Linked DNA regions of Homo sapiens: regions 1 and 2 are each linked to region 3. Evidence: fine-mapped expression QTL. A gene starts in region 3. Each other region holds a variant in brackets. All regions are shown on one strand. Distances are between the middles of the regions. Region 1 overlaps TAF1B (TATA-box binding protein associated factor, RNA polymerase I subunit B). Region 2 overlaps TAF1B (TATA-box binding protein associated factor, RNA polymerase I subunit B). Region 3 holds the start of TAF1B (TATA-box binding protein associated factor, RNA polymerase I subunit B).

Region 1 (8,183 bases), 73 kb before region 3:
ACCCTGAGGAGGACACGGCACTTGTTTTGGCCAGGGATGCAGAACCTGAATCTAAACATGAGGAACCATCACAACCATACTCAGAAACATTGTGTAACATCACTGACATTTCTGAAAAATACAGCTCAATGTCATGAAAGACAAAGAAAGGCTGAGGGACAATCAGATTAAAGGAGACCGAAGAGATAAAATCAATCAATGCCATACCTACTCCTGAACTTGATCCTGCTATAAAAGGACACTGGGGGTCTAATGAGAAAATTGGAATATGGACTGTGGGTGAGATAAAGGTATCGTATCAGTATTAAGTTTCCTGAGTTTGATAACTGTACTGTGGTCACTTAAGAGAATATCCTTATTTTTAGGAAATACTTAAGGAAGTATTAAGAGGTAGAAAGACATGATAAAGGTAACTGACTCAGAGAAGTGATATGTACTAAAAAATACAGCACATTCTCCTGATCAGCATTTACAGCCACTTCTATTGCTTGCCTGCCACACTGCAGGTTAATTTAGCTAGAGGGGATAGTTTGTGCTAATTGCCCTGTATCCTCTTTCTTGATTTTTACCAGCTTTCCTAGAACTCCTACACAAGACTCAATGTATAATTCTGATTTTCGTGACTTTAAGCTCACCAGCTTCTAATTCCAACAAAAAACCTATCTGGCTCTTATACAGTCAACTACTTCAATTATATGTGACTTTTTCTAAAAGCATTATTACCATCTGCAGAATTTCTGTGTACTAAGCCAATATAATGAATTCTTAGTCAGCAGTGATTGGCCTTTCTCTTTCAGGACTCCCTGAAGGCTGTGTCCATGGAAACACGTTCTATCAGTGTCCTCTTCAGTCCAGTTGAACTGAAAACTTGAAGGGCTTTTTTTTCCAGCAGTTGCTGTTGACTCGACCAGTGTGCTAAATTGTTTCTGTAGATTCACCACCATTTCTGGAACCGGAGAAAAAAAGGAAACAAAATAACAAGTAATGTTAAATCACAAATAAAGCCTGGAATTTACTTGATAGGAATGTACCAATATTGGTTCCTTAGTTTTCGCAGATGTACCACAGTAATGTAACAGGATAACGTTAAGGGAAAATGAAACTGGATGAGGTGCATGGGGGAAACCTTACTTCAAAAAGAATGTACAGTCTAAAAGGAATTCTATAAGCAAAGAATTTCCAAAATCATAACGATTTAGGATTTTAGATTTTGGCAGGAACTGAGGCTCTGTTTTGAAGAACGACATATTCCTGAAGTAGATTCCTGCAGAGATTTCTTGCAGAGTATGATGCTCCTTTGGATGTACATGTGCCCTGGAACATTTGTTTAAAAAAAGTAAAAAACTTAAGCATTCAACATTTCAAGTCCAGATATTTAATTTTTCTACAACTGTGTTGCTACTTGGTATTAAAAAGACAAAATTTGACTTACCTCTTTTTTTATATGCTACTGGTTTGTCGACAAATGAGTAGTAGAGTGGCTTTTCACTTTTCCACAGGTACCTGTACAAGGTAAAGAAACAGCTGGAGCAGGACGGAGATGAAACGGACATAAACACATTGTCTGAAGCACTATCTGAGATTTCTGATATTTCGTTATAGCTCTGGCTTGGAATGGCCTACTGGCACATGTCTATATTGCCTATTGAACTTAGGCCCTAGAAGGAACCACTGACCAACAGCCCAGGCCAAGAGAATGGTGTGCTCCTCTCAAAAGCCACCCAGATGCTGTGACATCTTGAAGAAGCTATTAATTATACAAAAAACATAGAAACTGTTTCCTTCACCATAAATTTCCCTTGCTGCTCATTCTCATAAAGTGAAGCTACCTCAGAAACAACTGTTCCTCATTGCCTTTGTCCCAATGCCTTTTTGCTGAGAGTTGTTAGTAGTACTTCTGATTCTGATAACTTACACACAGTGAACAGTAAATGCGTCTCTCTGGCATCTGATGCCAGGAAATCTATTCTATTCCTGGTGTAAAGGAGAGGAAAAGACTGGATTCCAGGATGACACAGTCCCAGTAGTCCCTGTTCTGACTCAGCCTATTCTTGCCAAGGGAAGGATGGCCAGGGAGTTTCCACTGTAAAATGGGGATCCTGGATTGCTCTGGCTCTTGGGGTTCCCTCCAGGACAAACACTAAGAGCCATCTAAGGTTCCTACAGATGAGGGTGATCAGTTCCAGACTCCAAAAGGAAGTGACATGTTCTATTTCTAGTTCTAGTGGCTGTTGCTAAACTTTGCCAAGCAGACGCTGCTGCTCTGGAACAAAGACAACAAGGTTCATTCTTGGTCTCATTTTTATTATTTCTGTGTTCCCTAGAGCAGAGAACTTTCATAACTTATAATAATTTTAAAAATCCACCTTCTTCTTAATCCCAGGCCATTTTCTTATTTTGAAAGACACTGTGGCAACAAGAAAGAGTACTGAATCAGAAGACCTGGCTCCACCATTTTCTTTTTTTTTTTTTGAGACGGAGTCTCGCTCTGTCGCCCAGGCTGGAGTGCAGTGGTGGGATCTCGGCTCACTGCAAGCTCCGCCTCCCGGGTTCACGCCATTCTCCTGCCTCAGCCTCCCAAGTAGCTGGGACTACAGGCGCCCGCCACTACGCCCGGCTAATTTTTTGTATTTTTAGTAGAGACGGGGTTTCACCGTTTTAGCCGGGATGGTCTCAATCTCCTGACCTCGTGATCCGCCCGCCTCGGCCTCCCAAAGTGCTGGGATTACAGGCGTGAGCCACCGCGCCCGGCCGGCTCCACCATTTTCTAGTGGCATGACCTTGAATGACAAATTATGGAGGTTCTTAAAGGCAGAGACTGTCTCAGCCATCCTTATGCCCCTAGTGTTGTCAGGGAGTGGTAGAGAGTAGGAACTCATTTAAACATTTGTTGAAGAATAATTGGGTGAATAAATGAACAAAGAAATGAATTTAGCATCTCTAAACTTATCCTCTACTTTCACAGGGTTATTCTGAAGAATAAGATGCTGTATGTATTGGTTCTTTAAATCCTATACAATAATTAGAATTATTATTAGTACTTGACAAAGTGCCTGGCTAGTAGATACTCAAGAAATATCTGTGAACTTTCCAGAAAAACAGATTAAAAATAGGAAGCCAGAAATACAAATATTTTAAAAATCTGTAGCATCTATAATAATTTCTCACCATTTATTTTTAATACTAGGAAGTAATACGTATATAAAAGCACACATTTTTAACAATATTTTAGTAATATCATTTAGCAAATAATCATTTTAACCGATTTAAGAACTGATTTTTTCAAGAATTTTAAAAAATACTTGATCAAGTCAGTAAAATCATGACTATACATAAAACAGATGTTGACTTTTTATTTTGAATTTCTGCAATGATATTAAATGTTAAGAACAGAAAGGAGTCGGGCGCAGTGGCTCATGCCTGTAATCCCAGCACTTTGGGAGGCTGAGGTGGGAGGATCACCTGAGGTTGGGAGTTTGAGACCAGCCTGACCAACATGGAGAAACCCCGTCTCTTTAGTAAATACAAAATTAGTTGGGCATGGTGGCACATGCCTGTAATCTCAGCTACTTGGGAGGCTGAGGCAGAAGAACTGCTTGAACCCGGGAGGCGGAAGTTGC[G/A]GTGGGCCGAGATCGTGTCATTGCACTCCAGCACTCCAGCCTGGGCAACAAGAGCAAAAATCCATCTCAAAAAAAAAAAAAAAAAAGAACAGAAAGGAAATTTTTCTAATCATTAGGTAGCAGTAGAGATGTAATTAATGTTATACAGGAGATGGTTTCCTGAAAATCATGTGAAACTAAACTTTAGTGAACCATACCACATTTAAAATATATCAGAGAGTTTGTCATTTAATGTTATGGTAAATGAGTTAGCGATTCTTTAAAATATATTTTTTTGCCATTAATTTTCTTAAATAATAAAATCTCAAAGGATAAAGAAGTTCCCTGAACAGTCTAATCCCAATCCCTGGGCACACTCACTGTTAAACATTCCTTGTGAATACCTAATCTAAATGGAAGTTTCTTATGCATTTACAGTAAATGCCTACACAAGTGGCAATCATGCCACAGATCAAGAAAGCATTATGATGCCCTTGGGGTGATATGCCCCAAGAATGGGAAAGGTGATCTAAAATAAAAATACTCTTAAGTGTTCAGATACCTGAAATGAAAGCTTCTTCCAAAATTGACTTTACCTTGCCTGCCTTTTCTCATTACATAAAACTACAAAAGGAGACACATCACAAACCATGTTTTCCAGTTACATGTTATCTATATATTTCTCTCTTGTCTGTCTGCATATGTTTCCTCATTTTTAAAAATTAAGGTATAATTTACATTCAGTAAAATTTACTCTTTTCAGTGTAGTTCTGCTAGCACTGACAAACACATACAGTTGCATGTGTGTACTCACCACAATTACTACGTAGAACAGTTCCATCACTCCAAAATATCTCCCACATCCCTTGACAGTCAACCCTTGATCTCAGGCAACTACTGGTCTGTTTTTCTGTCCCCATAGTTTAGCCTTTTCCAGAATGTCATATAAATGGAATCATAGCATAAGTAACCTTTTGAGTCTTTCACATAGCATAATGCATTTAAGATTCACTCATATTGCTGGATGCATAAGAAGTCTGTACTGCTAAATGGTATTCCACTGTACGGATACAACAGTTTAGCTAGTCACCAGTTGAAGAACATGTGGTTTGTTGCCAGTTTTTGGCAATTATGAATGAAACCATTAGAAACATTCCTATGCAGATTTTTGTGTGAGCTTGTTTTCATTTCATTAGGGTAAATATCTAGGAGTGAAAAACACTGGATAACATAATAAATGTATGTTTAACTTTGAGAAACTGACAACTTTTCAAAATAGCGGTACCATTTTGAATTCCCACACTGGGAATGATCAGTTTTTGTTTTTGTTTTGTTTTGAACCATTCTAATTGGTATATAATGATATGTCATTGTCGTTTTAATTTGCATTTCCCTATTAATGATGTTAAACATCTTTTCACATGCCATCTTGATATCATCTTTGGTAAAACGTCTTTTCAAATATTTTGCCCATTTAAAAAAATGGAGTTTTTTTCTTATTGCCTAAAAATTCTTTATATACTCTAGATACAAATCTTTAAACGGATATGTGATTTGCATTTAATTTCTCCTCGTCTGTAGCTTCTTATTCGTTTAAGTTCTTTTGTGGAGCAGAGGTTCTTACTTCTGATGAAGTCCAATTTACCAATTTTTTTTCTTTTATAGATCATGCTTTTGGTGTCACATCTAAGAAATTTCTGCCTAACCCAAAAGGGAAGGCAAAAATTAGCAGTGAACTCAAATTAAAACCATAATGAGATATCACTATACACCAATTAGGGCATAGAGATTTTCTGCACAGGCTTAATTTTTCTCCATGTTCTTCTCAACATCTTCTATAACAGCTAGAAGTCATCAAAGTAGCCTCTTACGCTGTTTTAGGTTTTCAACTATTGTTTATTAGTGTTTTTCATAATCTCATGCATAGGAACCCATGCTCAGATATAGAAAATGTTTTAATAATTTTCATCTGACAACATGGATGATAATATTCAGAGAAACAAAGAGAAAAATTAGACATGTATGTCAACATGGGGGTGGGGAAGGGTGAAACCGACAGGTGGCCACCACGCACTGAGCTCTGGGCCTGAGCAGCAGTTGGTAGTGCTTCGCATATTACTCAGCAGTGACTCACACTGCACGTGTGTGTCAGCCCTCAGCACATACTCTAGGAAGAAGGACCTTGGAAACGGGTCCCCTCGACAGCCTCCACCTTGGGGCCCGGTACCTCCCTGGAAAGTGCCATTTTATAACCAGACTTACTTTCTTTGGCCAATAAATTATTCCCTAAAGTAGCTAAAAGCCGGTAAGTCTTAAATGTGCAACTGACATAACACTGCAATAATGAACTGGGCCTCCAAGAGCTATGTTTAAAGTGTAGGTTGGTGTCTGGCTTGGGGTAAGGAAAGCCCTGTCACCACTGAGACCCCAGGGAGGAATGGCCCCTAGGCACCCAGTCCTTAGGATCCGTCAGGACTAACCCCAGCTAGCACCACAGAAAGGAAGGCTGATTCTCCAAAATGACCTAAGACACATAACAAAATCTTGTTCCTGCTGCTATTCTTGTGCCCACTGAGAGCCACTGACTGAAGAGTCACTCCTTCTCTGATGAGGAGGCAGGGAGCCTGGTTTCCTGGGAATCCATGGGCTGTTGGGATAAATTCACCTCCACCCCTCTTCTTCATTGTGCATCAATCCTGCCTACTGAGAGGGAACCTGTCACACTTCCCTGCTATGGAAAGGATCATCTCCACAGTGCCTTTTCTACCCCAAGAGTCTGTTTTTCTATTTAAAAGCCCTCTGAAATTTAGAGGAAAAATAATCTAGTTCTACTCTCATACTGGAAAATTGGGTCTTAATTACAGTATATAAGTGGGCATTATTATGTCTATTTTACTGATGAAGAAATAGGAGCTGAACAAATTCTCATTTCAACTAATATGGGGAACCTTGATTTTTCTCAAAGGATATAAAATTACTGAGTCGAATTAGTATTACTGTAAATTTACATTAAATACAGAGATGTTACCTTTTTCTTCAAAGCCTCAAAGAGACTCAGACTCAGCAAAAGGTTAAGTAACTGGCCCATGGGCACACAGCTAGCTTGTAATGCAGACAGGATTCAAACCTAGCGCTGCTTATGCTCTCTTCTACCCTACCACAATGAGCCCACATCAGAATGACAGTTCAAAGAAAGGCAGTGACACTGGCTGAATCAAATGGACTTGCTATCTGCTTTCCTTTGTTTTAATTTTCACAGGGATCTTTATTTTGGGGGAACATTCCAATTACATATGTTGCAAGGTAACATTTGTAATCTTTTTAATATTGGGAAGCATAGATGAGAAATGACTAAATTTGAGAAAGGGGAAGAGGGAGGAGTATTAGAAATATAGGCAAGTCTCATGCAAATTATAAAAAGTTAAATTATAAAAAGTATACTGTGGTATCCTGCATTGGATCATGGAACAGAAAGAGGACATTAATAAAAACACTGGTGAAATCCACATCAAATCTAAACTTTGATTAATAGTAATGTAAAAAAGAGAAAAGTTAATTAGAGTGTAGGGCTAATATTTCCAGAAAAAAAAGTCACAATGTAGATAAGTGTATACTGATGAAGCTTCAGCTTTCAAATGTAAAGTAACAGACACAGAAGTAAGGCAGGTGCATCTAAACCAGGAAGGAGAACATACTTGGCCCTTGCTTCTTCCCATTTTTGTTTTTTCTCATCAAAAGCTTTCTTCATAATTTGGTACCACTTTCTGAAATCAAACCATGGCTTATCTGAAAGAAATAAAATCCAAGATTATTAACCAAATAAACCACACTATAATAATATACATTGTTCATCTGAGTTTTCATTAATTGACTGCACTGGGCAGTTGGTGTGAGTGTGTGATCAAGATGTAGACATTAGAGAGACAACAGAACTGAATGCAGTAAAGTATAAAAACTCACTCCTCACTCTTTCACTCCATACAGGGATTATTCTCCATTATTCTCTGGCGAAGGCAGTCTCTTTCCATGCCTAACTAAAAATCTTTTCAACTGGTCAATATGATAATTGTTTAATCCAATATGACCTTGTAGACCATACAGCCACAGAAGAGAGGAAACTACCGAAAGAACTGTAAGAACAGAGGAAAACTATAGTAATCAATAGAACTCACGGTTCTTGGACCTGGAGTAAATCACAACTTTTCTAAACCTCAATCTCCCCATCAATAATGCTGGGGGCAGGGGATGGTGATTAGCAGACAGAGCAGAGAGAAATGACAGTGATCTTTGCCCTGCTGACAGCATGGATTTATTTTGAGGCTTACAGGGAGACAGGTCAAAGCGCTCTGTTTATTCTACATGTCTACGTAGTAAATTATCATCTTTTAGCATTAGAGGGGATGTTAGAAGACAGCTAGTTCAACCTTTCACTCTACATAGAAGCCAACATGAGCAATGTACAGAAAGTAGTATTTTATTTTGCACATATTCTGGAAAGAACACACAAACTGATTGCTTCCAATAAATTCAAGCCTCTAAAACCAATGAACATAAATCCTAATGAGAACAGAACATTAAGAAACT
Region 2 (8,183 bases), 85 kb before region 3:
TCCCTGTCTGACAGCTCTGAAGAAAGCAGTGGTTCTCACAGCATGGTGTTTGAGCTCTGAGAACAGACAGACTGCCTCCTCAAGTGGGTCCCTGACCCCCGTGCAGCCTAACTGGGAGACACCTCCCAGTAAGGGCCGACTGACACCTCATACAGGCAGGTGCCCCCTGGGACAAAGCTTCCAGAGGAAGGATCAGGCAGCAATATTTGCTGTTCTGCAGCCTCCACTGGTGATACCCAGGCAAACAGGGTCTGGAGTGGACTTCCAGCAAACTCCAACAGACCTGCAGCTGAGGGACCTGACTGTTAGAAGGAAAACTAACAAACAGAAAGGAGTAGCATCAACATCAACAAAAAGGACATCCACAACAAAACCTCATCTGTAGGTCACCAACATCAGAGACCAAAGGTAGATAAAACCACAAAGGTGGGGAGAAACCAGAGCAGAAAAGCTGAAAATTCTAAAAACTGGAGCACTTCTTCTCCTCCAAAGGATTGCAGCTCCTTGCCAGCAACGGAACAAAGCTGGATGGAGAATGACTTTGACGAGCTGACAGAAGTAGGCTTCAGAAGGTCGGCAATAACAAACTTTTCTGAGCTAAAGGCAGATGTTCAAACCCATCGCAAGGAAGCTAAAAACCTTGAAAAAAGATTAGACGAATGGCTAACTAGAACAAACAGCGTAGAGAAGACCTTAAATGATCTGATGGAGCTGAAAACCATGGCATGAGAACTATGTGACACATGCACAAGCTTCAATAGCCGATTCGATCAAGTGGAAGAAAGGGTATCAGTGATTGAAGATCAAATTAATGAAATAAAGTAAGAGAGAAGTTTAGAGAAAAAAGTAAAAAGAAACAAACAAAGCCTCCAAGAAATATGGGACTATGTGAAAAGACCAAATCTACATTTGATTAGTGTACCTGAAAGTGACGGGGAGAATGGAACCAAGTTGGAAAACACTCTGCAGGATATTATCCAGGAGAACTTCCCCAACCTAGCAAGGCAGGCCAACATTCAACTTCAGGAAATACAGAGAACACCACACAAAGATACTCCTTGAGAAGAGCAACCCAAGACACATAACTGTCAGATTCACCAAGGTTGAAATGAAGGAAAAAATGTTAAGGGCAGTCAGAGAGAAAGGTCGGTTACCCACAAAGGGAAGCCCATCAGACTAACAGCTGATCTCTCGGCAGAAACTCTACAAGCCAGAAGAAAGCGGGGGACAATATTCAACATTCTTAAAGAAAAGAATTTTCAACCCAGAATTTCATATCCAGCCAAACTAAGCTTCATAAGTGGAGGAGAAATAAAATCCTTTACAGACAAGCAAATGCTGAGAGATTCTGTCACCACCAGGCCTGCCTTACAAGAGCTCCTGAAGGAAGCACTAAACATGGAAAGGAGCAACCGGTATCAGCCGCTGCAAAAACATGCCAAATTGTAAAGACCATCAAGGCTAGGAAGAAACTGCATTAACTAATAGGCAAAATAACCAGCTAACATCATAATGACAGGATCAAATTCACACATAACAATATTAACCTTAAATGTAAATGGGCTAAATGCCCCAATTAAAAGACACAGACTGGCAAATTGGATAAAGAGTCAAGACCCATCAGTGTGCTGTATTCAGGAGACCCATCTCACATGCAGAGACACACATGGGCTCAAAAAAAAGGGATGGAGGAAGATCTACCAAGCAAATAGAAAGCAAAAATAGCATGGGTTGCAATCCTAGTCTCTGATAAAACAGACTTTAAACCAACAAAGATCAAAAGAAATAAAGAAGGCCATTACATAATGGTAAAGGGATCAATTCAACAAGAAGAGCTAACTATCCTAAATATATAGGCACCCAATACAGGAGCACTCAGATTCATAAAGCAAGTCCTCAGAGACCTACAAAGACTTAGACTCCCACACAATAATAATGGGAGACTTTTAACAACCCACTGTCAGTATTAGACAGATTAACGAGACAGAAGGTTAACAAGGATAGATATCCAGGACTTGAACTCAGCTCTGCACCAAGTGGACCTAATAGACATCTATAGAACTCTCCACCCCAAATCAACAGAATATACATTCTTCTCAGCACCACATCACACTTACTCCAAAATTGACCACATAGTTGGAAGTAAAGCACTCCTCAGCAAATGTAAAAGAACAGAAATCACAACAAATGGTCTCTCAGACCACAGTGCAATCAAATTAGAACTCAGGATTAAGAAACTCACTCAAAACCGCACAACTACTTGGAAACTGAACAACCTGTTCCTGAATGACTATGGGGTAAATAACGAAATAAAGATGTACTTTGAAACCAATGAGAACAAAGACACAACATACCAGAATCTCTGGGACACATTTAAAGCAGTGTGTAGAGGGAAGTTTATAGCACTAAATGCCCACAAGAGAAAGCAGGAAAGATCTAAAATCGACATCTTAACATCACAATTAAAAGAACTAGAGAAGCATGAGCAAACAAATTCAAAAGCTAGCAGAAGGCAAGACATAACTAAGATCAGAGGAGAACTGAAGGAGATACAGACACAAAAAACCCTTAAAAAAATCAATGAATCCGGGAGCTGGTTTTTTGAAAAGATGAAAAAAATTGATAGACCGCTAGCAAGACTAATAAAGAAGAAAAGAGAAGAATCAAATAGATGCAATGATAAAGGGGATATCACCACCGATCCCACAGAAATACAAACTACCATCAGAGAATACTATAAATACCTCTATGCAAATAAACTAGAAAATCTAGAAAAAATGAATAAATTCCTGGACATGTACACCTTTCCAAGACTAAGCCAGGAAGAAGCTGAATCTCTGAATAGACCAATAACAGGTTCTGAAATTGAGGCAATAATTAATAGCTTACCAACCAAAAAAAGTCCAGGACCAGACGGATTCACAGCCGAACTCATCAGAGGTACAACAAGGAGCTGGTACCATTCCTTCTGAAACTATTCCAATCAACAGAAAAAAGAGGGAATCCTCCCTAACTCATTTTTATGAGGCCAGCATCATCCTGATACCAAAGCCTGGCAGAGACACAACAAAAAAAGAGAATTTTAGATCAATATCCTTGATGAACATTGATACAAAAATCCTCAATAAAATACTGGAAAACTGAATCCAGCAGCACATCAAAAAGCTTATCCACCACGATCAAGTCGGCTTCATCCCTGGGATGGAAGGCTGGTTCAACATACGCAAATCAATAACATAATCCATCACATAAACAGAACCAAAGGCCAGGCACGGTGGCTCGCGCCTGTAATCCCAGCACTTTGGGAGGCTGACGTGGGTGGATCACGAGGTCAGGAGATTGAGACCGTCTTGGCTAACACGGTGAAACCCCGTCTTTACTAAAAATACAAAAACTTAGCCAGGTGTGGAGGCGGGCACCTGTAGTCCCAGCTACACAGGAGGCTGAGG[T/C]AGGAGAATGGCGTGAACCCGGGAGGCGGAGGTTGCAGTCAGCCGAGATTGTGCCACTGCACTCCAGCCTGGGCGACAGAGCGAGACTCCGTCTCTAAACAACAACAACAACAACAACAACAACAACAAACAGAACCAATGACAAAACCACCTGATTATCTCAATAGATGCAGAAGAGGCCTTCGACAAAATTCAACAGCCCTTCATGCTAAAAACTCTCAATAAACTAGGTACTGATGGAACATATCTCAAAACAATAAGAGCTATTTATGAGAAACCCACAGCCAATATCATACTGAATGGGCAAAAACTGGAAGCATTCCCTTTGAAAACTGGCACAAGACAGGGATGCCCTCTCTCACCACTCCTATTCAACATAGTGTTGGAAGTTCTGGCCAGGGCAATCAGGCAGGAGAAAGAAATAAAAGGTATTCAATTAGGAGAAGAGGAAGTCAAATTGTCCCTGTTTGTACATGACATGATTGTATATTCAGAAAACCCCATCATCTCAGCCCAAAATCTCCTTAAGCTGATAAGCAACTTCAGCAAAGTCTCAGGATACAAAATCAATGTGCAAAAATCACAAGCATTCCTTTACACCAATAACAGACAAACAGAGAGCTAAATCATGAGTGAACTCCCATTCACAATTGCTACAAAAAGAATAAAATACCTAGGAATCCAACTTACAAGGGATGTGAAGGATCTCTTCAAGGAGAACTACAAACCACTGCTCAACGAAATAAAAGAGGACACAAACAAATGGAAGAACATTCCATGGTCATGGATAGGAACAATCAATATCGTGAAAATGGCCATGCTGCTTAAGGTAATTTATAGATTCAATGCCATCCCCATCAAGCTACCAATGACTTTCTTCACAGAACTGGAAAAAACTAAAGTTCATATGGAACCAAAAAAGAGCCCGCATTGCCAAAACAATCCTAAGCAAAAAGAACAAAGCTGGAGGCATTACACTACCTGACTTCAAATTATACTACAAGGCTACAGTAACCAAAACAGCATGGTACTGGTACCAAAACAGAGATATAGACCAATGGAACAGAACAGAGGCCTCAGAAATAACACCACACATCTACAACCATCTGATCTTTGACAAACCTGACAAAAACAAGAAGTGGGGAAACGATTCCCTATTTAATAAACGGTGTTGGGAAAACTGGCTAGCCATATGTAGAAAGCTGAAACTGGATCCCTTCCTTACACCTTATACAAAAATTAATTCAAGATGGATTAAAGACTTACATGTTAGACCTAAAACCATAAAAACCCTAGAAGAAAACCTAGGCAATACCATTCAGGACATAGGCATGGGCAAGGACTTCATGACTAAAACACCAAAAGCAATGGCAACAAAAGCCAAAATAGACAAATGGGACCTAATTAAACTAACAAGCTTCTGCACAGCAAAAGAAACTACCATCAGAGTGAACAACTTACAGAATGGGAGAAAATTTTTTCAATCTACCCATCTGACAAAGGGCTAATATCCAGAATCTACAAAGAACTTAAACAAATTTACAAGAAAAAAACAACCCCATCAAAAAGTGAGCAAAGGATATGAACAGACACTTCTCAAAAGAAGACATTTATGCAGCCAACAGACACATGAAAAAATGCTCATCATCACTGGCCATCAGAGAAATGCAAATCAAAACCACAATGAGATACCATCTCACACCAGTTAGAATGGCAATCAATAAAAAGTCAGGAAACAACAGGTGCTGGAGAGGATGTGAAGAAACAGGAATGCTTTCACACTATTGGTAGGACTGTAAACTAGTTCAACCATTGTGGAAGACAGTGTGGCAATTCCTCAAGGATCTAGAACTAGAAATACAGTTTGACCCAGTGATCCCCTTACTGAGTATATACCCAAAGGATTATAAATCATGCTACTATAAAGACACATGCACATGTATGTTTGCTGTGGCACTATTCACAATAGCAAAGACTTGGAACCAACCCAAATGTCCTTCAATGATAGACTGGATTAAGAAAATGTGGCACATATACACCATGGAATACTATGCAGCTATAAAAAAGGATGAGTTCATGACCTTTGCAGGGACATGAATGAAGCTGGAAACCATCATTCTGAGCAAACTATCACAAGGACAGAAAACCAAACACCATATGTTCTCACTCATAAGTGGGAATTGAACAATGAGAACACTTGGACACAGGGCGGGGAACATCACACACTGGGGCCTGTCGTGGGGTGGGGGCAGGGGGAGGGACAACATTAGGAGAAATACCTAATGTAAATGACCAGTTGATGGGTACAGCAAACCAACATGGCACATGTATCTATGTAACAAACCTGTAGGTTGTGCACATGTACCCTAGAACTTAAAGTATATATATAAAAAAAAAGTTAAACCTGAATCTGATCAAATCTCTAACTAATGTTAACTGCCAATCTCTCTTTTTTTTTTTTTTTTTTGAGACAGAGTCTCACCCCGCTGACTGCAACCTCTGCCTCCCAGGTTCAAGTGATTCTCCTGCCTCAGCCCCCCAAGTAGCTGGGACTACAGGCATGCACCACCATGCCCGGCTAATTTTTGTATTTTTAGTAGAGATGGGGTTTCACCATGTTGGCCAGTCTGGTCTCGAACTCCTGACCTCAGGTGATCCACCCACCTCAGCCTCCCAAAGTGTTGAGATTACAGGCATGAGCCACCGCACCTGGCCATAACTGCCAATCTCAAACTAACTACATCAACATATAGGCTATCCAGGGATAGAGGAAGAGGTTAGATGGCATCATATGGCACTGTCTATACACAAAATCTGGACTATGAGAAATTGTATGGGACACATGACCAGGATTACTCAGTAAGTACATTGTAAGAAGAAAAAAGAGAGAGATAAAGAGGTGGGGCCTTAAGAACTGAAACACTTATGAGCCATGTCAACCACTTGCAATATATGGGCCTGATTTGGATTCTGAGTTAAACTCATTTAAAAAATTTTATGACAATAGGGAAAAATCTAATCACTGACTGCATATTGGAGAATATTAAGAAATGACTTAATTTTTTATATCTGATTAATGGTATTATGGTTTTACTTTAAAAAATATGATGTTTGAGATCTGTTTCCAAATAATGGGGGGCAGAGGGGTAGAGTAAGCTGGAGCCTGGGTGAAGCAAGTCTTGCCATGTCACAGTTGCTGAGATTGAGTGACAGAGACGGGGGGTTCTTTATACTACTCTACTTCTGAGTATACCAGAAATTTCCCATTATCAACTTTAAAAAGCAAGTAAAGAAATAACATATAGAAGCTATAGACATTGAGATATTATGATTTACATAATATATACGGCCCTAAATTCCTGAATGTCTATGTTTGCACCATAAAACTCTGCCACTTGGTTGGGCACAGTGGCTCATGCCTGTAATCCCAACACTTTGGGAGGCCGAGGCGGGCAGATCACGAGGTCAGGAGTTTGAGACCAGCCTGACTAACATGATGAAACCCCGTCTCTACTAAAAATACAAAAATTAGCCAGGGGTGGTAGCGCATGTCTGTAGTAGCAGCCACTCGGGAGGCTGAGGCACAAGAATCGCTTGAACCCAGGGAGGTCGCAGTGAGCCAAGATTGTGTCACTGCACTCTAGCCTGGGTGACAGAACGAGCTTCTGTCTCAAAAAAAAAACAAACACCCCAAAACAAAAAAACCCAAAACCAATCAACCAACCAAACAAAACCCTCTGCCACCCATTAGCTGTGACTATGGGTAACTACTCTTGGTTCTCTCATCTGTAAAACGGAAAAAAATAACAGTACTTACACTTTTCTTTTTTTTGAGACGGAGTCTCACTCTGTCACCCAGGCTGGAGTGCAGTGGCACAATCTTGGCTCACTGCAAGCTCCGCCTCCCGGGTTCATGCCATTCTCCTACCTCAGCCTCCTGAGTAGCTGGGACTACAGGCATGCACCACCATGCCCGGCTAATTTTTTGTATTTTAGTAGAGATGGGGTTTCACCATGTTGGCCAGGATGGTCTCGATCTCCTGACCTCGTAATCCGCCCACCTCGGCCTCCCAAAGTGCTGGGATTACAGGTGTGAGCCACCCTGCCCGGCCTGAGTACTGTTTTTTCACTATAGTTTAAAAAAATAGTTAAAAAATAATTTTTAAAAAATTAAAATCACATTTTTGTGGGGCTGCCAAAGCACTTCCATTTCCTGTGGAATACAACTAAAGACCACTGCTCTGCCTCATCTGTGGAACTCCCAGGGAGGTGACGGCCACCACCTACAAGAAGTCAGGTCTTCTGACCTAGCCAACTGTTATAACAATTGGAGGAATAGTAAGGGCATTTCAATTCATTGAAATTGTTAACTCTGCCTCAGCTAGGAAGAATAAACAGCCTCCCATACCTGAAGTACTCTTGTGGCCTTTCTCTGCTTAGTTCCCAAGCTCTGAGTGTTTTCACAATTTTACAGCAAATGTTTTGTTTCTTCTGAACACTCAGAAATGAGTCCTTCTGCCTAACAAAATTCGATACATAGCTAAATATTTGCTCTCATAAGCATCACTTTTCATTGTAATCATTTTCAATGGTTGTCTTAGAGCATATTCGGCATATTTTAGCCTTTACAATGATATTATTACAGTTGCCTGTTTTTATTGTAGAAACATTAGAAAACATGCTAATAAAACCCACCACGAAGGCACACAGCGTCTTAGGACAGGTGCTGTGCTG
Region 3 (8,183 bases):
CCTTTATCAATCTGGAAGGCCTTTCCCAGATTGCAGAGCGTGTCTGGAGCTTGACAGTTACATGCCAAGGAAGAGGGGGCAATAAAAGGGGCAGAAAAATAGGGCAAGTTGCACCATGACTTCCATTCTTCACAGCTGTAACTGTCTCACCTGCCATTCCCCACCCACTGTATTTCAACATCACCATCGCCACACTGCTCAGCTCCAGGGAGCCCCTACCACATTATATTCTCACAGTCCATGTGAAGAACATGCCTGGACCGCCATAAAGCCAAGAATAACTACTGAAGTTGTGCAACACGTAACTTTTTTTTCCTTTAAGCCTGTCGTCTGAAAGGAAGGCACTGAGCTAGGTTCTTGGTCTTTATAAAGATGTTGTCCACCTTCATGAACTCTACATTCTTGACAAATTACTCCACAGGAGTTGACAGTCTTCCAAATGTGGAGCTAGGGAGAAGTATTAGGATCTTTCAAACTAAAAAATGACTGCAGCAGATTTGATCAAACAGAATCAAACGGAAACAGTATCAAAATCAAAAATAGAAAAGCAATTAGTTAATGTAGTTCAATTCCTATAAAAATAGTATGCTGACTTCATCTACTAATGGCAAATACTCCATTAGACATAATCTTTCTTCACTGGGTTTACACCTGCACTATAGTACAAAAGCAACAGTGAGTAAAACTGCTAGCTCCTTACTACACAATGAGGGTGAGGACCAAACTGCACATCTGTCAGGTGCACAATCTGACACACACAGACACACACACAAAATATATCTCCATGAAACCACCACTATAATCAAGATAATAAATATCTCCATCACCCCAACAATTTCATCAAGTGAGCACATATCTTTTTAATATTCTGTATGACTAAACAGGAAGCAGAGATAAGCATTCCAGCTGCAGACTCAAGAACACTGCCTCAAGGAAAAGCACTTGTGTGACACACCTGCAAGCTCAATTCACCAGTTTTGTCAAGGGAAAATGTTTTTCCTTTTACTCATTTAATATATTTTGTCCAGGTTTTTCATTGTTTAGGGGACAAAGGTAAGTCTGGTCTCTGTTAGTCCATCTTAGCCAGAAGCAGAAGTCTACACAGTTACTTTTAATGTCCCAAATTTGCCTTTCTTAAGCCTGTATGGTGAAGGTAACATTTGTTCCTTCCTGGATCTGTAGACTTTGAGGAAATCCTTTTCCACTGAGGAGAGTCCTGGCACATTTAGCCTGTCCAGCAGCAGACTCTCTACACCCTTGATCACTTTGGTGATGCTGGCCCGAAGGTGTGTTCACCACAATAGGACCTAGCACTCACAATGTGAAGGTAGCCTCGTTTACCAAGGTTACACAGGACAATATGACAATCTCTACTTTAAGAGGCAGGTGTGATGGGTAAAATGAACACTGAAGTCAGAAGACTCACATTCAAGTCCTGGTACTTGGGTAACTTTGGCAAACTCACTCAACTTCTGAGCCCTATCAATAGGCTCTCACAGTTAGTGATGAGGAGGAAATGAGATAATGGATCCAAAAACTTTGTAATCTGTAAGGTACTATACAAAGGTAAAAGGATAACGAAGAATAATTCCAATATTCCCAACAGTCCTCAAGCTTTCTTTCTCTTTTTTAGACAGAGTCTTGCTCTGCTGCCCAGGCTGGAGTACAGTGGCGTGATCTCGTCTCACTGCAACCTCCGCCTCCTGGGTCCAAGCGATTCTCCTGCCTCAGCCTCTCAAGTAGCTGGGACTACAGGCGCATGCTACCACGCCTGGCTAATTGTTGTATTTTTAGTAGAGACGGAGTTTCCCATTGTTGGACAGACTGGTCTCAAACTCCCGACCTCAGGTGATCCACCTGCCTTAGCCTCCCAAAGTGCTGGGATTACAGGCGTAAGCCACTGCGCCCGGCCCAGTCCTCAAGTTTTCTAACATTCCATCTTCCAAACCTCTAAGCCACCATGACACATTTAAAAAAATGTAAATAAGTACTAACTGATAAAAAGAAATGCATCATCTTCTAAGTACAATTTTAATTATTTCCCTCAACCACATACTCTGAATAAGAAATCATTTATAAATGTGGCCCAACATAATTTCAAAAACTCATCCTCAATCTAATTCACAAATCCCTTAACCTATGTGTAAGTACCTAAGACCACATGCATCCTTGGAATGTTGGCATTGCATGAGTGACAAAAATCAACCCAATTCTTTGGGACTTAGACTACATATCAGGCTGAAATGGCAATTTTTAAAACATAAGCAAATTCATAAATGATATTTGTTACTTACCTCTGTAACATTGTGGCAAGAAGTGCAATAATATTTGCCTTCATCAGTAAGACCCCATGAGACAGCAGCACACTGAGTACAGCGTTCTTTAAACTCTTCCTATGGGAGAAGAGGACAGAAAAGGTGTTCCCATCAAGCCACATTCAATACATCGTACCTAAACCTTGCAGTTCTATTTAATGGGTTCCTGGCAACTTTATTAATAAAAAATCATAGACAATAAAAAATATGTCAGAGAGATTATCCGCAAACAAGGAGAGGCGCGGTATGAAACCGAATTAAACTACTGGAGAAAATTTATTGAAATATGCAGTGTGACAGGAAAAAAAAAGAAAAGGAGGTAGTAGGGGTAAACTGGAACCAAAGATGAGTAAACAAAGCTCCTTGAAAATACTGTGAGAAGATGACAAACAAGTATAGAGAAGACTTTTAAAAAATGCAAATACAATTTGGAACTCCTCCAGGACACTAAAAGCGCATACCACAGAGGAACTAGATTTGTAATGGTTTCAAGTTTCGATTTATTCACTCGGCAGCATAAGGGGTATCAACTATGTGTGTACCAGGCTTTTTACTAGGTGCTGGGGATTCAATGGTGAGCAAAACAGACCAGACATGATCCCTAGTCTGGGTATACGCTAGCTAATGGTGAGTTACAATTATTCATTTCATCAGCCTAGCATTTACAGAAGTTAGCCAACCATCATCAGTAAACATTTTTTAAGCCTCTACTATAAGACCGTACTGCTCCTGTATATACAGGCCTAATTCTCTGATCCCCAACTCTTTGGAGTTTGACTTGTTGTTAGCATTGATCTAATTATCGAGTATCATTTAATACCATCAAAGCGTGTGCCATTTGGCCGAGGGCGGGGGATCACCCCTATAATCCCAGCACTTTGCGAGGCTGAGGCAGGAAGATCGCCTGAGCCCAGGAGTTCAATACCAGTCTGGACAACATAGCGAGACCCCTGCCCCTACAAAAAATTAAAAAAAAAAAAATTAGCCGGGCTTGGTGGTGCATGTCTGTAGCCCTAGCTCATTGGAAGGCTGAGGCGGAAGGATCTCTCGAGCCCAGGATTCGAGGCTGCAGTGAGCCGTGATCGTGCCACTGTACTCCAGCCTGGGGGAAGAAGTGAGATCTTGTCTCAAAAATAAAAAACAAAAATGTGCCATTTTACGTAGTACCTAAAACAAAACAAAATGCATGCCAAATCAATTTTGGCAACTTGGTAAAGTGTTCAGTGACCCCGTACTAACACTACGATGAATGATAGCTGGACAATTTGGGGAGTTCCCAAACCCGAATTTAGAATCCCTGCTGGAGACAGTGGCAAGGATTCCCGGAGAGACCGACAGGGGTTACCCGGCGGCATCTCAGGTTCCAACCCCTGCCCCTCCCTCACCCACCCCAGCATTAAAGGGAACTTGTGGGTGGTCCAGTCTCGAGGATGAGCCCTGTGGGTGGCCACCCCACAAAACCCACAGCTTCATCCTTAAACACACCCATAACGACAAACACCACACCCTCCCTCCCCCACAACCTCGCCGAGCCAGAAACTCCAGCCTCTTTACCAAAGCCGCGCGCGCATGCGGCCGGCCAGCCCCAGTCCTTAGCCCGCCCTGCAGCCCTCCGCCCCGCCTTCCTCCAGCCGGTGGCGTCGCCGCCCCAACCCGCGGCGTCCTCCGCCGCTCCTCCTCAGCTTCTCTCTCCTCCGGCCCCGGCGATCGTGGCCCGCCAGGTGCACCGCCTCCTTACCGCCTCCTCGAGGTCCATCGCGGCGCCGCGGGAGCTTCCACAGCCGGGACCCGTTACCCGGGTAGCGAGCGCAGCTTCCGGGAAAGGCTGGAGAAGCTTCCGGCCGGAAACGCGAGATCCGCGCCTAGGATTCCGTGCGCCTGCGCGGCAGGGAAACCGCGCGCTCGGGGGCGAGGCTCCGCAAAGCTCGCAGACCCCTCGCGGACTACCTAACTTTCCTACTCTTGAGAACCAAAACCAACCAATAAGAAAGTGGGCGACGCCTACTGCTGAGTGGTTTGATCAAGCTCCGTTCCGACGATCATTCATTCCAAGACAGACTTGCTCCTCCGGCGGCACGGGGGGTCGGACAAGGCCGTGCTCGCGAGCGCGGGCTCTGTCCTCTGTGGGTTCCGCCCTCCGTGGGTTCTGCCCTCCGAGTCTCGCCCCTTGCTGGCTTTTTTAAGGGGAAGCCTCGGGGCTTGGAGGAAAGCTCACGGGCTGTGAGTTAGACCTAGGTTTCTAATCACGGCTCTCCTGCTTACTTGTGCCTCAGTTTACTCCTCTGTAAGAATTAGATGTTATCTGTGAGCCCCTTATAATTGAGTCTCCACCGGGCGTGCTGGTTCACGCCTGTAATCCTGGGGAGGCTGAGTCGGGAGGATTGCTTGAGGCCAGGAGTTGGAGACCAGCCGGGGCAACAAAGCGAGACCCCTTCTCTGCATAAGTAAATAACTGAATAAATAAATGCATGAGTGAATATAATTGAGTCTCAGTAAGTGCTCAATAAATTTAGCTCTTATTGTTTCTTCATCTAACACATTCATTCCTTGTTTTATTTATTAAACAGGAACTGGTTTGTGTCCTGGGGATTCAGCAGTGAACAAAGTAAACAAAAGTCCTTGCCTTCATGGAGATTGTATTCTGATGGGGAGAGACAAAAATAAATAAGGAAAATATGTGGTATGTTAAGTGGTGGTGAGTTCCAAGGAGAAAAATAAAGAGGAGAGGAGAATGGGAACAACAAGGTGATTTCAGTCTGAAATGTGATGTTCAAGAGAGATCTCATTGAGAAGAGGATTTTTGATATAATCGTACATCCCAAGAAGTTAGAAAAAAGATTAAACTGAAAAATAATGGGATGAAGGAAATGTTTAAAAAAGAGAAATTAATAAAAGAGAAAGCAAGCTTCGATAGGCTCCACAAAGGCTTGCTGTGGTGGCTGGTGCCTGTAATCCCATCACTGTGGGAGGCGAAGGCGGGCAGATTGCTGGAGGGCGGGAGTTGGAGACCAGCCTGCCCAACATATTGAGTCCTCATCTCTATAGGCTGGAGTACAATGGTTCAATCTCAGCTCAGTGCAGCCTCCACCTCCCAGGTTCAAGCAATTCTCCTGCCTCAGCCTCCCAAGTAGCTGGGATTATAGGCACGCGCCACGACGCCTGGCGAATTTTTGTATTTTTAGTAGAGACGGGGTTTCACCAGGTTGGCTGGGCTGATCTCGAACTCCTGACCTCAAGTGATCTGCCCACCTCGGCCTCCCAAAGTGCTAGGATTACAGGCGTGAGCCACCACGCCCAGCCTAAAAGATATTTTTTAAGAAGAGAGTCTCAACCAACTAACATTAGCTCTTTGAAAATACTAATACATTCGATAAACTCTGGAAAGATTGATCAAAAAGAAAAGAGCCCAGCTTGGTGATGCACACCTACAGTCCTAGCTACTTGGGAGGATGAGACGGGAGGTTTGCTTGAGCTCAAGGCTGCAGTGAGCTATAATCGGGCCACTGTGCTCCAGTCTGAGCAACGGAGCAAAGAAAATCAAAATAAACTGATATCAGTGGCATCACTAACCAATATGTAGGGGCATCACTGCAAATACCACAGACATTAAAAAGATCATAAGGGCATATTCTGAACAACTCTAGGCCAATAAATGTGAAAATTCCACCAATTTTTTTTTTTAAGACAGTCTTGCTCTTTCACCCAGTCTGGAGTGCAGTGGCACCATCTCAGCCCACTGCAACCTCCGCTTCCCAGGTTCAAGCAATTCTCCTGCCTCAGCCTCCTAAATAGCTGGGACTACAGGCGCCTACCACCACACCTGGCTAAGTTTTGTATTTTTAGTAGAGATGGAGTTTCACCATATTGGCCAGGCTGATCTTGAACTCCTGACCTGCCCACCTCGGCCTCCCAAAGTACTGGGGTTACAGGCATGAGCCACCACGCCTGGCCAAATTCTACCAAATTTTTAAGAAAGAAATAGGCCAGTCATGGTGGCTCACGCCTGTAATCCCACCACTTTAGGAGGCTGAGGCAGGAGAATATTTGAGGCCAGGAGTTCGAGACCAGCCTGACCAACATGACAAAACCTCGTCTCTACTAAAAATACAAAAATTAGCTGGGCATGGTGTTGCACGCCTGTAATCCTAGCTACCTGGGAGGCTGAGGCACAAGAATTGCTTGAACCTGGGAGGCAGAGGTTGCAGTGGGCCAAGATCATGCCATTGCACTCCAGCCTGGTTGATAGAGAGAGACTCTGTCTCAATAATAATAATAATTTTAAAAAGAAATAAATAACACCCATCTTATACAGATGCTTCCAAATAATGAAAAAAGAAGAGCATTTACCAGTACATTTTAGGAGACAAGCATGACCTTGACACCAAAACTTGACAAGGATATTTCAAGAAAAGTCAAAATTAAAAAGCAATTCCTCTCATAAACATACATGCAAAAGTTCCAAACAAAACATCAGTAAATTGAATGTACATCCTGTTGTACTCAGCAATATATAAATAGGATAATAAATCACAGCCAAGTTAGGTTTATTCTAGGAATGCAAGTTTGTTTAACATCGAGCCTGTAATCTCAGCATTTTGGAAGGCCAAGGTGGACAGAACACTTAAGCCCAGGAGTTTGAGATCAGCCTGGGAAACATAATGAGACCTCATTTCTGCAAAAAATTAAAAAATTAGCTGGGTGTGGTGGCACAGTCCAATAGTCCCAGGTACCTAGGAGACTGAGGTGGGAGGATCGGTTGAGGCTGCAGTGAGCTGTGGTCACGCCACTGCATTCCAGCCTACATGACAAAGCAAGACCTTTTCTCAAAATTAAAAAATGTTAAAAGAAAAAGTAGAGAAAAAAGAATAAAGATTTAAAAAATAAATAAAAGAGAAAAAAATAAATCATACAGTAATCTAGTGTGATGCAAGGATAGACCAAAAAATTGACAGAACTGAATAGAAAGTCCAGAAACGGACTCATAAGTACATATAAAATAATCTGATTTACAACAAAGCTGCTACTAAAATTCAGTGAGGAAAGAATAGCTTTTCTCCTTTTTCTTTGTTTCTTTTTTGAGATAGAGTCTTGCTCTGTTGCCCAGGCTGGAGTGCAATGGCACAATCGCGGCTCACTGCAACCTCTGCCACTCAGGTTCAAGCAATTCTCGGGCCTTAGCTTCCCAAGTAGAGGTAGCTGGGACTACAGGCATGTGCCATGACACCTGGCTAATTTTGTATTTTTTAGTAGAGATGGAATTTTGCCATGTTGGCCAGGCTGGTCTCGAACTCATAGCCTCTAGTGATCCACCCACCTCGGCCTCCCAAAGTGCTGGGATTATAGGCGTGAGCTGAAAGAATAGTTTTTCAATAAATGGTTCTGAATCAATCAGACATGCATATGAGAAAATTATTGACCCCTTTCTCACACTGTACACAAAAATTAATTCAAATAGATCCTACATGTGATAGGTAAAACCATAAAGCTTCTAGAAAAAAAAAGTGGTAAATATCTTTATGATTTGGTGTGGAATAGACTTCATCAACAGGGCACAAAAAGCACTACTCCTAAGAGAAAAGGTCATTACACTGGATTTCATTAAATTAAGAACTTCGATTCATCAGAAGACATTGTTAGGCTGAGCACAGTGGCTCACGCCTAGAACCTAGCACTTTCAGAGGCCGAGGTGGGAGGATTGCTTCAGCCCAGAAGTTCAAGATCAGCCTGGGCAACATAGAGAGATCCTATCTCTACAAAATTTTTTTAAAACTTAGTTGGGTGTGGTGGGCATGCCTGTAGTTCCAGCTACTCAGGAGGCTGGGTCGGGGGGATTGCTTCAGCCCGGGAAGTCAAGGCTGCAGTGAGCTG

Evidence for each region.
Region 1: its variant is fine-mapped to the expression of TAF1B in monocytes (TOPMed, PIP 0.99).
Region 2: its variant is fine-mapped to the expression of TAF1B in subcutaneous fat (GTEx, PIP above 0.99).

What each region holds. Positions count from the first base shown.
Region 1 is chr2:9,912,361-9,920,543 of GRCh38, reverse strand. It overlaps TAF1B (TATA-box binding protein associated factor, RNA polymerase I subunit B), which reads right to left. Exons shown (of 15, transcript NM_005680.3): 12 at 7,295-7,385; 13 at 1,433-1,503; 14 at 724-946. Among named protein-coding and RNA genes, the nearest start is that of GRHL1, 35 kb to the left of the region's middle. RefSeq lists an enhancer at 2,615-3,116. The variant G/A (reference allele first, on the strand shown) is at 3,621.
Region 2 is chr2:9,924,538-9,932,720 of GRCh38, reverse strand. The region is part of intron 14 of TAF1B (TATA-box binding protein associated factor, RNA polymerase I subunit B); the gene reads right to left. Among named protein-coding and RNA genes, the nearest start is that of GRHL1, 23 kb to the left of the region's middle. The variant T/C (reference allele first, on the strand shown) is at 3,450.
Region 3 is chr2:9,839,430-9,847,612 of GRCh38, reverse strand. It overlaps TAF1B (TATA-box binding protein associated factor, RNA polymerase I subunit B), which reads right to left and starts at 4,139. Exons shown (of 15, transcript NM_005680.3): 1 at 4,054-4,139; 2 at 2,295-2,393. The coding sequence starts at 4,071. RefSeq lists a silencer at 3,779-3,858.